Homo sapiens: one gene and its partner. The main gene of each other region encodes a partner of the protein of the gene in region 2 in a complex. Each region holds a gene or a part of one and is shown on either strand. Other genes may lie near its edges.

Region 1 (7,918 bases), on a different chromosome or scaffold from region 2:
CTCCACACAGGGCCTGGAGCTGAATCTGCTCCATCACAGCAGCCCCGGTAGGGAAACCCCTGGGTGGGCACTCAGACCTCTACTGCTTCACAGCAGGGGAGCACAGCGGACCCCTAAGCCAGAGCCAGGGCTCATCAGCCCAAGCAGAAACTGTGTGACAGGAACCCTCTTGGCTGTGATCCTGGCCCTACAATGACATCGCAGGCCAAGCCAAGGCAAGCCATCCCCACCCCCACCTGGAGAAGAAAGGGTAAGTGGGCCCCTGGCCTGGAGGCTGCGAATCCTCTTTTGGATGTAGCAGCAGCTGTGGCCTGGATGATCACTCGGGCCACTCAGCTGACTCGAGCGGTGGACACCTGTTCTCCACATTAGCCCTGGGGCTGCCAGGTCTGGGGCCTCCACTTGCCAATGTGTCTGCTGTCAGTGTTGCCCCACAAAACAAGGGGAATGACCCAGCACACATAGCTGAGTGGTGATACAGTGCTCTGGCACCCCACAGCCATTCGGGCCCTCCAGGGCCAGGCAGGAACTGGCCAGGTAGAGGGGAGAAGTCTAAGGCAGGAGCACAGGCTATGGGGGGAACGCGCCCCACTCTCCCACAAAGGGGCTGCCCCACAGGTCCACAGGACACCATGGCAACCATCTCAGGAGAAAACCACAGCCCCTCAGGTTTTCTGCCACTATATGAAGTCAAGTCTCTCATCATCCAGGCTGGGACAAAGGGATCCCTAAAAGGACAAAAGGAGCTTCCTACCTTTGGAATCCCTTCTCCAATGTGCCCGCACTCCCTTCCCTGTGTGCGATCGCACCAAGAACCAATAGCACACAGTTACAGGGCACCTCGGAGCTCCAATTTCTCATCCTGTGACCCAAAGGAGTTATTTCTGCAGTTCTTAAAAATAAACTGGTGGCCGAGCGCGGTGGCTCATGCCTGTAATCCCAGCACGTTGGGAGGCCAGGGCAAGCAGATCACCTGAGGTCAGGAGTTTGAGACCAGCCTGACCAACATGGTGAAACTCCGTCTCTACTAAAAATACAAAATTAGCTGGGCATGGTGGCGCATGCCTGTAATCCAAGCTACTTGGGAGGCCAAGACAGGAGAATCGCTTGTACTTGGGAGGCAGAGGGTGCAGTGAGCTGAGATTGCACCATTGCACTCCAACCTGGGCAACAAAAGCGAAACTCCGTCTCAAAAAAATAAAAATAAAGTAAAATAAACTGGTGGCAGATTTTTCTCCCAGCACCTTAGTCATGTAAGTTACCAGATACAGAATGCCAAAAGCAAACCAAAAATCTGTTAGCTTAATTCAGCAACAGTCAGCAAGCCCCAGTCTCATCTGTGACCACGCAGGTCCAGGTTGCCTGGCCCAACAGCTGCACATGGTGTTCCGGGTCTCTAGGCTGGTCCGGTTTCCTCCAAAGCAGCCCTGACTCCAGTTCCTGCCCCTACGCGAACAGACGCCCTTCCTGTTCCACTGCAGGCCCAACTCTCCATTCAGCACATAGGAGTGAACAAGGAGGGCCACACATTTTAGCGGCGATTCCAACGCCTTAGGTAGAGCCAAGGCATCAAGGAGAATAAAACCGAACAGCTAAGATGTAAGAAAACCCAGCGGCCAGAGTCAAAAAAGTGGGGAGGGGTAGAGAATGCAAGTCCCCAGGCCCCAGGTTGGCTGACCCCACCCTCCTTCCCCGGCAAGCCCTTTGGCACCAGCAGCTGGTCCTCATTCCAGGCTAAGGGCTCGCCGTAGTGGCTCCCTCCGAGGCTGTCCCACCAGACGCTTAAAGGTGGCTCCATAGTGGAAACGACTTCTTTAAAGAAGAAAGATGAGTCTCATGTTCGGGCAACCGCCCGTCGCAGGGGTTAAACGGTCCTGACAGAGCAGCCTTTTCACCCTCCCCTGGGCCAAAGCACACACGTGTTCTCTGCTTTCCCTGCACACCGGCCACTCAGATCTGCTTCTCCACAATCTCAGCCCCTCAGCGCCCGCCAGGGTCTCCCCTACAGCCCCTGCCCAGCCCAACACGGCCAGAATGACCCGCGGCCCAGGCCGAGGCCGCAGGGTGGCCCCCGACCTTCCACTGCCTTCGGATGCTGACATGAGGTTCCCGCCCCGCGCTGGGGGCAGCGCCCCGTCCCTGCGCCGGTGTCTCTTCACGCACCTCCACCGCCCTCGCACAGGCGGAGCCACCAGGGGCTCGGTTTCTAGAGGCCTGCGAGCTTCTGCCACGCAAAACGCCACAGGCACACGGCAGAGCCCCGGGGCCGCCCTGCGCCCACCTCAGGACGGCTCCGCTGGTCGCACGACGCGCGCTCCTTCCCTCACCCCACTGCCCGCTCCGGCGTGGCGCTCCCCTCTGAACCCCCAGGAGACTCTGGAGCCCCTCGGTGAGAGGCCGCTAGTCTTCCTGACCTGCACCCTTCTCACCTGGTTGGCAAATCCCCGGAGGTGAGCCATGGCCGCGCCGCCTCAGACCCTCCGCCAGCAGCCCCAGGAGGCGTCTGGATCCCGCGGAGAGGCGCGGAGCCGGCTAGCTCGCCCCTGCGGCGTCAGTCCACTGCGAGGGACACCAGGGGCGCTCGGTGCCCAGTTCAGTCATCTGAGACCGACCTCCGGGGCGGCGGGCTCCATGGGTGGGGGGGGGCCCAGGAGACCCCCCAGGCCGCCGGGGCCCCGCCACGCCCGGGCCTAACGCCCAGGCTCCCGGGGGCTCGCCGCCCCTCCCGTCGCCGCCCCCACCTCTTCCAAGGCAGCTTCCTCCCGGTGCCCCCGCCCCGGTGTCCCCGCCACCGAGCCCCGCCCCGGGCCCCTCCCTCTGCCCCCTCCCCAATCGCCGCAAGCGCCCCGCCCGGCAGCGCGCCCACCTCCGCGGGGCTCCATCCCGGCCTCCCCCGGCCCGCTCTGCAGCGCCCGCGAAGGCTCCCACCCGCAGCCTCTGTTCGCCCGGGGACCCCGGGCCTCCCAGCCCGCGAAGCAACGGTGGTGGCGGCAGCGACCGGAGAAAGCCCGGAGGCGACGGCGAGGGCGGTGCTCGGCGTCGCGGCCCGCGCACGGCTCTCTGGGACCCCGAGTCCCACCGCCCACTCCGGGCCCGGAAGCCTGCTGGCGTTGGACTACAAGTCCCGGCAGGCTGCGCGAGAGGGGGCCGGGGCTCGCATGCGCGCCGCGAGGCTCTCTGGGACCCCTAGTCCTGCTCCCGAAAGGTTTGGACTGCGTCTCCCGGCAGGCCGCGCGCCTGGGCGGGCGGGGCACGTGGTCGTTGTCGCGTCGCGCCCTCCCTGCCTCGCCCTCGCGGGTCTTCTGCGTTTGCTGGCGCCTGCCAGGCGTCGTCTCCGACGTTACGGCGGCCGCGCGGCCCTCTCCCTTGGGCTCTGCCCTGCGCAGCCCTGGTTCGAGCGGGCCAGTGAGGCCCGGCGCCCTCCCCGCCTCGCCACGAGGATCCACCGCGGCCGCCCAGGCTTCTAGCCTTGTCGTCACGGCACGGAGATAAGCCCGCGCTGGCCACATCGCGAAGCCCCTGTTCGTACTGAGACCCCGCCCGGGATCACGCGCACAGGCCAGGGCGCACCAGGCCTTGGAGAAGCTACCGGCACAGCCCATTCCTTGGGCGAGTTGCTTCGCCTCTCCTGCCTCAGTTTCCTTACCTGTCAAGGGGTGGTCATAGGACGTCCTTGGTCACACCGTTGTGGGACCCACCTGGGCTAGAGCGCGGGACGCGCCCAGGACAGTGACTGCTGCTGGAAGCCGTCATGGCACTCCCCAGGGTCCGGGAGGGACTTGCAGATCCCAAGGCTACCTGGTGCGTCCCCGTGCCCCGTGGGCCGCCAGGTCATAGTGCCCCCTGTGTGCATTCCCCTAGTGCACCGCAGGGATCCCCACCTGTCCGGTGAGGAAGATTTGTCCCTCCTGCATACTGTGTCCACCCTTACAGGCCCTCACTCTCCATGATGGCTCAGCACAGGTGACTATCCTGACCTCCTCACATCCCTCCTTCTTCGAGAGGGTTCTGGCGTTTCTCTCTGCTCCCTGGTGCGTGTCTTCTCATGGTGCACTGCCGAGTCCTTTAAGAAGCTATGCTTCCCTGTCATGCGTCCAGGACAGCCCCTTGAACCCCTCCTGGGTCCGCATCTCTCATCACCCCTGCTTCTTTACGTACTGACTTGGCTTTGTTTGTGCTTTGACTCCCCAGGAGAAAGTGGGCTTCCTGCAAGCGGAGCTGTGCCCAGGACCATGCCAGCCCACGGCAGGCGCTCAGTAATGTTTGTTGAATGAATGTGTAAATGCATGAAGATAATATATGTATTTAATGCATGTAAATAGATGCCTGCTGCATCTCTGGCCTTCGTGTGGTCAGTAATCGCTGCACTTTTCCGAAGTGCCTAGAAGAGGCTGGGAGCAGTGGCTCACACCTGTAATCCCAGCACTTTGGGAGGCTGAGGCAGGCAGATCACTTGAGGTTGGGAGTTCGGGGCCAGCCTAGCCAACATGGTGAAACTTCATCTCTACTAAAAATACAAAAATTAGCCAGGCATGGTAGTGCGTGCCTGTAGTCCCAGCTACTAGGGAGGCTGAGTCAGGAGAATCGCTTGAACCTGGGAGTTGGAGGTTGCTGTGAGTCAAGATCATGCCACAGTACTCCAGCCTGGGAGACCGAGCAAGGCTCTGCCTCAAAAAACAAATTAATAAAAGTGCCTAGAAGAGTTTTTCAGCCTTTGCCTGCTTTTGGCCAATTGTTAACCCTTTGCTCCTGGCTGCTGTCTTGCTAAGCTGCCGTCCGGACGTGATCATCACCATGTCTTTTCCTGCATTGACCTTCCAGGCCCTTCATCCCGTTTCTCTTGTTTTCCATTTCTTTTTTGTTGTTGTATACTTCTGTTATTCTTCGGGGTTTTTGTTTGTTTGTGTGTTTGTTTTGAGACGGAGTCTCACTCTGTCTCCCAGGCTGGAGTGCAGTGGTGCGATCTTGGCTCACTGTAACCTCCGCTTCCCAGGTTCAAGCGATTCTCCTGCCTCAGCGTCCTGAGTAGCTGGGATTATAGGCGTGCGCCACCACCCCCGGCTAATTTTTGTATTTTGAGTAGAGACGGGGTTTCATCATGTTGGTCATGTTGGTCAGGCTAGTCTCAAACTCCTGACCTCGTGATCTGCCCACCTCTGCCTCCCAAAGTGCTGGGATTACAGGCATGAGCCACCACGCTCGGCCTTATTCTTCGGTTTTATCTTTCAACTTTCATATAAAAATTTTCTTTTCAGTGATTCTTTCTTTTTTTTTCCCAGATAAGGTCTTACTCTGCCACCCAGGCTGGAATGCAGTGCGGCAATTTTGGCTTACTGCAACCTCGACCTCCCAGGCTCAAGCAGTTCTCCCACCTCAGCTCCCCATGTAGCTGGGTCCACAGGCACATGTCACCACACCCAGCTAATTTTTGTGGAGACGGGGTCTCCCCATGCTGTCCAGGCTGTTCTCAAACTCCTGAGCTCAAGTGATCCTTCCGCCTCAGCCTTCCAAAGTGCTTTCAGAGTACAGGTGTGAGCCACTGAGCCTGGTCTCTATTTTTCACCTCCAAGAAATTTTAGTTTTTTCTCTGGGCACTCACTTTCTTCCTTGGGAATATGGCGCTAATAGTACTTTTCTTGTAGATTGTGAGAATAACACCGTATGTGGCGGGCCTGGCCCTTGGCAGGTGCTCAGAGAGTCACTGTGTTTATTATTGACAAGGCTGACCTTGGGTGGGAGGAGGGAACACTCACAATTGAGCCCCTTGGGCAGCTTACCTTCAGGTCCAGTCACTTGGTGACTGCAACAGCCCTCCGAGGCAGGCAAGGGATAACTAAGAGGTAAAGGGACGTGCCCAAGGCCACAACCAGAATATGGCAAAGACAGGATTGAACCCAGGTCTCCTGAGTCCTGTTTGTATGCTGCTGGGAATTCAGGTAGGAGTGGAGAGAAGCTGGAGTTGGACTTTGTGTCAACCTGGGTCAGGTGTGAGTTGGCCAAGCCACCCTCTGGTTTGACAGACAAGGAAATGAAACCCAGAAAGAGGACAGCATAGCAGCATCTGGATTAGAACTGGGTTCCCCTTCTGATTAAGATAAGAGATCGGGCACTTGAGCTTGTTCTTCTTTCCCTACCAGGGACCTGATAACTTGTCAAAAGGGGCTCAGGAAGGGAGGCTAAACCCTGAAACTGTTCAGAGAAAGGAGTGGGTTCCCAGCAGGTGAGTGCCACAAATGTCCAGAGGTAAAGCTTGGTGACAGTGAAATGGGGGGAAGAAGCCTTCACTTGAGCCCCCTCCATTGGATACAGAGCCCTGGAAAGGTGAGGGGCTGGAGCTGGGGGAGAGGAGGTCGACAGCAGAGACACCATGGAGACAGGTATGTGCATGAGTCAACAGCTTCCCACTCCTCATCCCTCCATCCCCTCACACACACAAATCATACAGCAACAGGGTTTCCTAGCATAAATAATGTGGGGGTATTCCAGAAAAAGACACCCCTGTAAGGTGGGATTTAGGCTGGCCTGAGAGTGGGCTTCCTACACAGTCTCTACAGCAAAGCCCAGCGCTTGACAAGTCCTGCTTTTGAATGCAAACTCCTTGTGAGCTTCCTAACACCTCAGTCTTAGTCTCTTTAAGACTGCTAAGGATATTGGGTATTTGGGAAGACTTTCAACATGAACAATAGAGACCAACGTAAATTAGAAAGATGACGTGAGAAGAAATAGAAACACAGAGAAATGAAGAGCATTCTGGAACCTCGTTAGAACATTCCTAGAACAAACACAGAATGCTTCAAGAAACAGCCCAAGAAAAGGCTATCAGGAGATAAAATGACAATAGATTAAAATTACCGCAGGCTCTTGGATTCTTACTTTTGGAGAAGTCAGCCTAAGAAATCTACCCAGAAACTCATGTGGAAAAGACACACAAAGGTAGATGCAGAGCCAGCCCTGAGCTGTGTGGCCACCCCAATGTCAGACACATGAATGGAAATGGAATTCCAGCCTAGGTGAGCCTTCAGACAGCACCACCCCTAGGTTCTGTCACCACAACTCTTAGGAGGAGCCACTCAGCTGGGCTCAGTGAACCCACAGAACCAAAGACATTGATAACATGTTTTAAGAAAAGTAAAGTTTAGACTGGGCGCGGTGGCTCACGCCTGTAATCCCAGCACTTTGGGAGGCTCAGGCTGGTGGATCACTTGAGGTCAGGAGTTTGAGACCAGCCTGGCCAACATGGTGAAACCCCGTCTCTACTAAAAATACAAAAATTAGCTGGGCATGGTGGCACACGCCTATAGTCCCAGCTACTTGGGAGGCTGAAGCAGAAGAATTGCCTGAACCTGGGAGGTGGAGGTTGCAGTGAGCTGAGATCATGCCATTGCACTCCAGCCTGGGCGACAGAGCAAGACTTTGTCTCAAAAAAAAAAGAAAAAGTTTATAATTTCAGCATGTTGGAAGGTCAAGGTGGGAGAATCACCTGTGTCCAGGAGTTTGAGACCAGCCTGGGCAACATGGCAAAGCACTATGTATGCAAAAAATGCAAAAAAATTAGCTGGATGTGGTAGTGTGTACCTATGGTCCCAGCTAGTTGGGAGGCTCAGGTGGGAGGATTGCTTGAACTCGGGGAAGTGGAGGCTGCAGTGAGCTGCGATCATACCACTGCACTCCAGTCTGGGCAACAGAGTGAGACCCTGTCTCCAAAAAGAGAAAAGAAAAGTTTAGTTGGAAGATAAAATTAAGGAACTCAGGAAGTAAGATAAGCTTAGAAGTTCAAGTCCAGTACCAAACTAATGGGAATTCCAGAGAGGAAGAAAGTGCCAAAAATTCCTTTTTTTTTTTTTTTTTTTTTTTTGAGTCTTGCTCTGTCACCAGGCTGGAGTGCAGTGGCATGATTTCAGCTCACTGCAACCACCGT
Region 2 (7,021 bases):
CTAAGATCTTGCGTGAGTTGGGTTCTCCGGTCCAGGAGTTGAAGAATATCTCTGCGATCACAGACGATGAGCATCTGATGAAGTGTTGTGATGGTCTCTCCTCAGAAAAATGCACACAGTAAATCTTTCATACAGGTAGTCCAAAAACTCACCATTCTGGCATTAAACGGACCTCAGGATAAAGTACTACAAAACCTGCAACTGATTTTCAGCTAAAAAATAAAACGTATATAGAGACAGACCTATAGAAAGATAAAAAACTAATATAGCAAACACTAACAATCACTGACCTGGGGTGTAAGTATAGAGGTGCTCACTGCACTATGCTAGAAGTCAGCAAAACTTATTCTATACATTGCCAGACAGTAATTATTTTCAGCTTTGCAAACCTAACTACTGAACTCTGCTTGCGTGGCACTGAAAACAACCATAGAACCAGAACTAGAGAAGCAAACAGGCATAGCTGTGTTCCAATAACTTTACTTGCAAAAGCAGACAGTGGGCTGAATTGGACCCATGGACTGTAGTCTGCTGACCCTTGTGTTAGTCTTCCAAAGTTATGCATGTCTGAAAACTTTCATAATAAAATACTGTGGGGAGGCCAGGCGCAGTGGCTCATGCCTGTAATCCCAGCACCTTGGGAGGCCGAGGCAGGCGGATCATGAGGTTAGGAGATCGAGACCATCCTGGCTAACACGGTGAAACCCCGTCTCTACCATAAATACAAAAAGAAATTAGCCGGGCGTGGTGGCGGGCGCCTATAGTCCCAGCTACTCGGGAGGCTGAGGCAGGAGAATGGCGTGAACCTGGGAGGTGGAGCTTGCAGTGAGCCGAGATGGTGCCACTGCACTCCAGCCTGGGTGACAGAGTGAGACTCTGTCTCAAATAAATAAATAAATAAAATAAAATAACATAAAATACTGTGGGGAGTATTGACCTAGTTGCCTATTTCTTTCCTCTTTGTTTTCTCCAAGTTGATCTGTGTGTTCTTCTCTCAGCCTGAGCTATGGGGAAATATACACATGGGCTAGGGCCATACTAGGTGAGCAACAGCCCTGAGGACAATGAGATGGTACAGGGAATAATTACAATTAATAATCATAATCATAAATGCCAGAACAATAGCAACAAACATTTATTGTTTGCTACGTGCTTGGCAGCAATCCAAGTGATTGACATGGATGATTAACACACTGAATCCTCATAACTGCTCTGAGGTATGTATTGTTAGCAGCGTCCCCACTTCACTGATGCACAGAGGCGAGTGAGGACACTGATGCACAGAGGTGAGGCTGTCACTTACTGGAAAGCAATGAAGCCAGGCAGCCTGACTCAATTTCAATATCATACTGTCATTTAGGCAAAAATGTTTGTATCATGAAGCTTCCATAAAAACCAAAGAGGAAAGGATTCAGAGAGCTTCCTGATAGCAGAACATGCACATTCTTGGAGGGTGGCATCCCCAGGGATGGCACGAAAGCTCCCCGCCCCTTCCTCCATAGCTCACCCTATGCACCTCTTCATCTGTATCCTTTGGAATATCCTTTATAATAAACCGGTAAACCTAAGTGTTTCCTGGAGTTCTGTGAGCCGCTCCAGCAAATTAATCAAACCCAAAGAGGGGGTCGTGGGAACCCCAACTTGAAGCTGGGGATGCCCAAGAGGTGGGCCCATGACAATCAGGCTGCTTTCCCATCCAGAGAGCTCCCTTCCTTCCACTGCTGTTCTTTGGGATTCTGCTTTTGGTTTCATTAAAAGTGTTTCTTCAGGCAGACAGCATCATCAATGCTTGAGAAAGATGGCCTAGGGTGGTACTACAGAGCTGCACTGTCCAGGTTCAAGGCTAAACTGCTTACATATTAGCTGTGGAATCTTGGGCAATCCTTGTACCTTTCTGAGCCTCAATTTTCTCATCTGTGAAGTGGGGATGATGAGAATACCTACCCTCAGAGGGTTGTCTTGAGTACAAAATGACATTCTACAGGGACACCCTAGCACCAGGGGAAGATTAATAATGGCAGCCGTGGCAACCACGCCTCACTGACAGCATCCTGATTTTGTTCAGATTATTAAGAAGGACATCGTGGCAGCTGGTCCACTGATGTTTCTTTTCCCTTTTTTCACCATGACAGAATAATAACAGTAAATATTTCCTTAGTCTCTACTATGCCCCAGGCTTTAATGTTTTAATTCATTTGACCCTCACAATCCCATGAGGGAAATACAGAATCCCCCGTCTTGAGGCAGAGAACACAAAGGCACAGGGAGCTTAACTGCATACAGCTTACTGGTAGTAAAGCCAGGATTTGAATCCCAGCCACCAGGTTCTTAACCAGTACTATGGATTCATATTTGCTCTGTTTTTTCTTTTTTGTTGTGCTTGTTGTTGTTTTGAGGCAGGGTCTCACTCTGTTACCCAGGCTGGAGTGCAGTGGCACAATCGTAGCTCACTGTAGCCTTGACCTCCCGGGCTCAAGTGATTCTCCCGCCTCAGCTACCCAAGTAGACGGGTCTACAGGCAGGTGTCACCAAGCCCAGCTAGTTTTTTAACTTTTTGTAGGGATGAGGCCTCACTATGTTGCCCAAGCTGCCCTCAAACTCCTGAGCTCAAGCAATCCTCCCACCTCGACCTCCCAAAATGCTAGGATTATAGGCATGAGCCACTGCACCCGGCTTTTTTTGGTTTTTCTCTTGTAGAGGGGTGGGGTGGTGCCATGAATCCCCTTAGCAGGTCTAATAATGAACGCAATTTTGAAAGAGGTGAACATAAACAACACTAGAAGATATGTATAATAGCAGAAATGACATGTGAACACAACTCCTGATTTCCACTGGTAAGTCACAGGTTTTGCTAACGCTACCTATGATATACTATAGTGATATTATAATCTATAACAGAAGGGAAGTTAAATGTAAGTTAAAGGTTAATGAAAATAAAGATGTTATTTTTGCCATCCAAATTCATGGACCTGCCTGGGAATTGCAGATGATCCCCAAGTTAGGAGCTCCTGCATGGGGCTATACTGCTGTTCATAATCCTTGGTTTTCAGCTGTACACATGACCCCTGGAAAAGACATTTCTGAATTGCCTTTGCATCTGAATGTGACTATAAAACTAACATCTGGCCAATAAAATCCAAGTGGAAATGTTTTGTGCAACTTATAGGGATGGGGGTCACACTTATCTTCCCTCCTTCCTGTCTGGAATGGAGCTATAATGGTTGGGGCTTCGGCAGCCAACTTGGGGACCTGAGGTAACCTGGGGGACACGGAGGGTAGAATGGAGGATACAACCAGCGCATAATGGTAAGAGCCTGGGACCCTGACACCATGAAGTGCCACAGCAGCCTGGATTGCCACCAGACATTTTGGTCATCAGTCAGATAGAAACTTCAAGCTCATTTAAGCCCCTGTTATTTAGAGTTTTTCTACTACTTACAGCCAAACTTAACTTCAACTAACTCTGCATATGACCTAGTTCTTGGCAAAGAGATATACAAGCAAGTCTGCTGAGGAGATTCAGGAGAGATTTTCCTCCTTCATAAAAGGGAGGAGGGAAAGAACCTCTGTGTCCTAAGCTGGCCTCTGCTAAACTGCACTAAAAAGTGCAGTTCCACTAGGACAGCAGATGCTGCTGGAATCTTATAACCAAAACAGGCCAGTCAAAAAAACCGCATTTCTGTGATATCTTTGAGCTGACCCAATTCTGTGATAGCTTTGAGCTGCTGAACTTGCTATATGAGAAATAAAGAGAACTCTTACTTGTTTAAACAACTCTAGGTTGGGGTCTCCGTCACATTCCTGATAGAAAATCTATTAATATCATTTCAGAAACCTTGACTGGCCATTGATCATGTCATATCCTGAGAATTCCCTGTGCACTGACTATCTCCCAAGTGTGTCCCCACCAAGCACCTGCTACAGTTGTGATACTGTGAGATACAGATTTGGGCTTCATCCCCATTTCCTTGCATACAACTCCTCAAATCTTTGGAATCTCCAAGGCGCTTTTTGTATGCTAATGTTGACTGATACCTTCAGGATGGGGTCCATGGTCACTGGAAAGATAGTCATGGAAAACAGAGAGGCATGATTAGAGGGTTGGGATTTTCAGTCCCACCCCACAACCTCCAGGGATCGGAGAGGGGCTGAAGGTCAAGGTGATCACCAGGTTTAATCAATCCTGCCTACCTAACAATGCCTTTATAAAAACCCAAAAGGACAGGGCCTGGGAACTTCAACATAGCCGAACACACAGAGGTTCCTGGAGGGTGGTGCACCCAAGAAGGGCATGGAAGCTCCACACCCCTTCCCCCATAGCTCACCCTATGCCTCTCTTCATCTGTATTCTTTATACTATCCTTTATAATGAACTGATAAACTTACATGTTTCCCTGAGTTCTGAGAGCTGCTCTAGCATATTAATCAAACCCAAAGGCAGGGTGGTCATGGGAACTCCAACTTGAAGCAGGTAGATCAGAAGTTCTGACGACCCAGAATGGCAACTGAAGGCGAGGGCCAAGGGGCAGTTTTGAGGCCTGAGCCCTCAACCTGTTGGATCCAACACTGTCTCCAGGTCGTGTCTGAACTGAATTGGAGGACATCCAGTTGGCGTGTGCTGCAGAACTGAATGCTTGCTTAGTGGTGGTGAAGAATCCCTCCCCACCCCAACACACATTTAGTCACGGAAGTCTTCTTCTGTGTTGTTGATTGTTGTGTTAAGTGAGAGAATAGGAATTGGGATTTTCCAAAGAGTCCACCCATATGGTTCCATGACAGCACTTACCACCCTAGACTGGGACTCTCTGTGTCCCAGCAGGCCTCGGCACAGAGCCTGCTCTGTGGTGAGTTAATAAATAAAATCCGCCTTCCCACTATATGCACCTGTGGAAAGGGGACCCACTTTTGAAGATCCACCCTGCATTCAACCCATGGAGCCTTCCATAATATGAATGTATATGGTATAATCCCACATGTAGTATGTTTTCCCTGCACATTCAGAATAAAAGCTAAGGCCTTACTCTGGCCTACAAGGCCCAACACAATCTGACCCTAGTCTACTGATCCATTCTCACTGGGCCTGGCTTGTCACAACTGCTTCCTTGATAGTAACCAAAAAAACAAACAGCCCAGTGTATTCCCAACCCAGGCTTTAGCACTTGCTGACTTGGTCCCACACGGTTCCCCAGATGCCCCATTTCCTCAGGTCTGCTCAATCCCCACCATATGACTACCGCAGAACAATGAGCAAGCCAATTTCACTGCATCTTCACAACCAGGCACACGCTGATTCTTCATCATTATCCCCATTTTGCAGATGAGGAATCTGGGTCCAAAGAGGGGAAAGTACTGCTCCAGGGGCACACAGAGAGCACAACTGGCAGAGCGGGGGTTCAAACTTCAGTCACCCTCAACTCTTCCCTCTACATTACCCACCAGCAAATCCCATCAGCCCCCCTCAACATGTCCTGACTGTAACCATACTTCCCCCCTGCATGCTAACACTGGTCCTGGGTGCTTTGTAATGGCACCTCAACAGGGCCCAACCCCTATGACAGCCAGAGGAAGGATCCTTTAAAATTATACCAGAACCCATAATTACTACTGAAAGCCTTGCAATTCCTCCTCCTCCCTCCCATCTTCAAGGCCTTCACCTTGGCCCACAGGCCTCACTTGATCTAGTCCTGGTCTAGTCCTCACCTCCCACCACTTTGCCATTCTCTCTGCCTCAGTCACACTGGCCTTTTTGCTGTGCTTTGAACGCATCAAGCATCCTCCCACTCCTGGCCTTTGTACCAACTATTCCCTCTGCCCAGACTGCTCTTCCACGACCTGTTCATTTCATTCAAATCCTTGTTCAACATCACTTCCTCAGAGCAGCTTTCTCTAACCTCCCTATCTAACAAAGCAGCCCCAGGTGCTTGCTCTATTCCCTGTACCTGTCTTATTTTGTTCTTTTTTTTTTTTTTTTTTTTTTTTGGAGACAGGGTCTTGCTGTCGCCCAGGCTCTCACCGCAGCCTCGATCTCCCTGGTTCAAGCAATCCTCCGACCTCAGTCTCCTGAGCAGCTGGGACCAAGGCCTGTGTCATCACACCAGCTAATTTTTTTTTTTTTTTTGGTAGAGACAGGGTCTCACTTTGTTGCCCAGGCTGGTCTTAAACTCCTGGGCTCAAGCGATCCTTTCACCTTGGCCTTCCAAAGTGCTAGAATTGGCCAGGGGTGGTGGCTCATGCCTGTAATCCCAGCACTTTGGGAGGCAGAGGCGGGCAGGGAGTTTGAGACCAGCCTGGCCAACATGGTGAAACCCACTCTCTACTAAAAATACAAAAATTAGCTGGATGTGGTGGTGGGCGCCTCTAATCCTAGCCACTCAGGAGGCTGAGGCAGGAGAATCACTTGAACCCGGGAGGCGGAGGTTGCAATGAGCAGAGACGGCCTGGACGACAGAGTGAGACTCTGTCTCAAAAAAAATAAAATAAAATAAAACCAAAGTGTTACAATTAGGCTTGAGCCACCACGTCCAGCAATTTTTCTTCTTAGCAATTACTGCCACTGACATCCCACTACAGATCTACTATCTGTCTCCCAAACCAGAATGTAAACCCCACAAGGGCAGCTTTGCTGTTTTGTTCCCTACTGTATGTCTAGTATCTAAAACAGAGTCTGGCACACAGGAGGTGCTGATAAATATTTGCTGAACAAATAAATCAAGACTACAGGATTTCATGTCCCATGTTCCTTCTAGTATCCTGAACTGTCTCAGACACAATTAAAATGTCTGGCATATGAATATAATCAGCAACCGTGTGTCCCACCCCAGATTCTATTCCACCCTTAGGTCCTACTTCCTTTCCTGGCTCCTTCATTTCTCAGCTGCACAGCTTTGGCCATGTTATTTATGGTGCTTCAGTTTCCTCATCTGGAAAATGTGGACAAGGACAGGACCTACTTCAAAGAGTGATTGTGAGAATTCAGTAAGATCGTCAGTGATATTCCTCTGTACTGTACCTAACATAGAGC

What was found. Proteins that work in one complex are often made in the same cells at the same time.
Region 1: PPP2R1A (region 2) and STK25 share a complex: the UniProt entries of both Homo sapiens proteins name them as parts of the core of STRIPAK complex.

Annotation. Positions count from the first base shown.
Region 1 is NC_000002.12:241,505,577-241,513,494, forward strand, and holds the start of STK25 (serine/threonine-protein kinase 25), read right to left. Parts: upstream 3,009-7,918; 5' UTR 2,867-3,008; intron 2,770-2,866; exon of another isoform or gene 2,560-2,769; 5' UTR 2,460-2,559; coding exon 2,430-2,459; intron 1-2,429. UniProt on the Homo sapiens protein: Oxidant stress-activated serine/threonine kinase that may play a role in the response to environmental stress.
Region 2 is NC_000019.10:52,193,047-52,200,067, reverse strand, and holds part of PPP2R1A (serine/threonine-protein phosphatase 2A 65 kDa regulatory subunit A alpha isoform), read right to left. Parts: intron 1-7,021. UniProt on the Homo sapiens protein: The PR65 subunit of protein phosphatase 2A serves as a scaffolding molecule to coordinate the assembly of the catalytic subunit and a variable regulatory B subunit.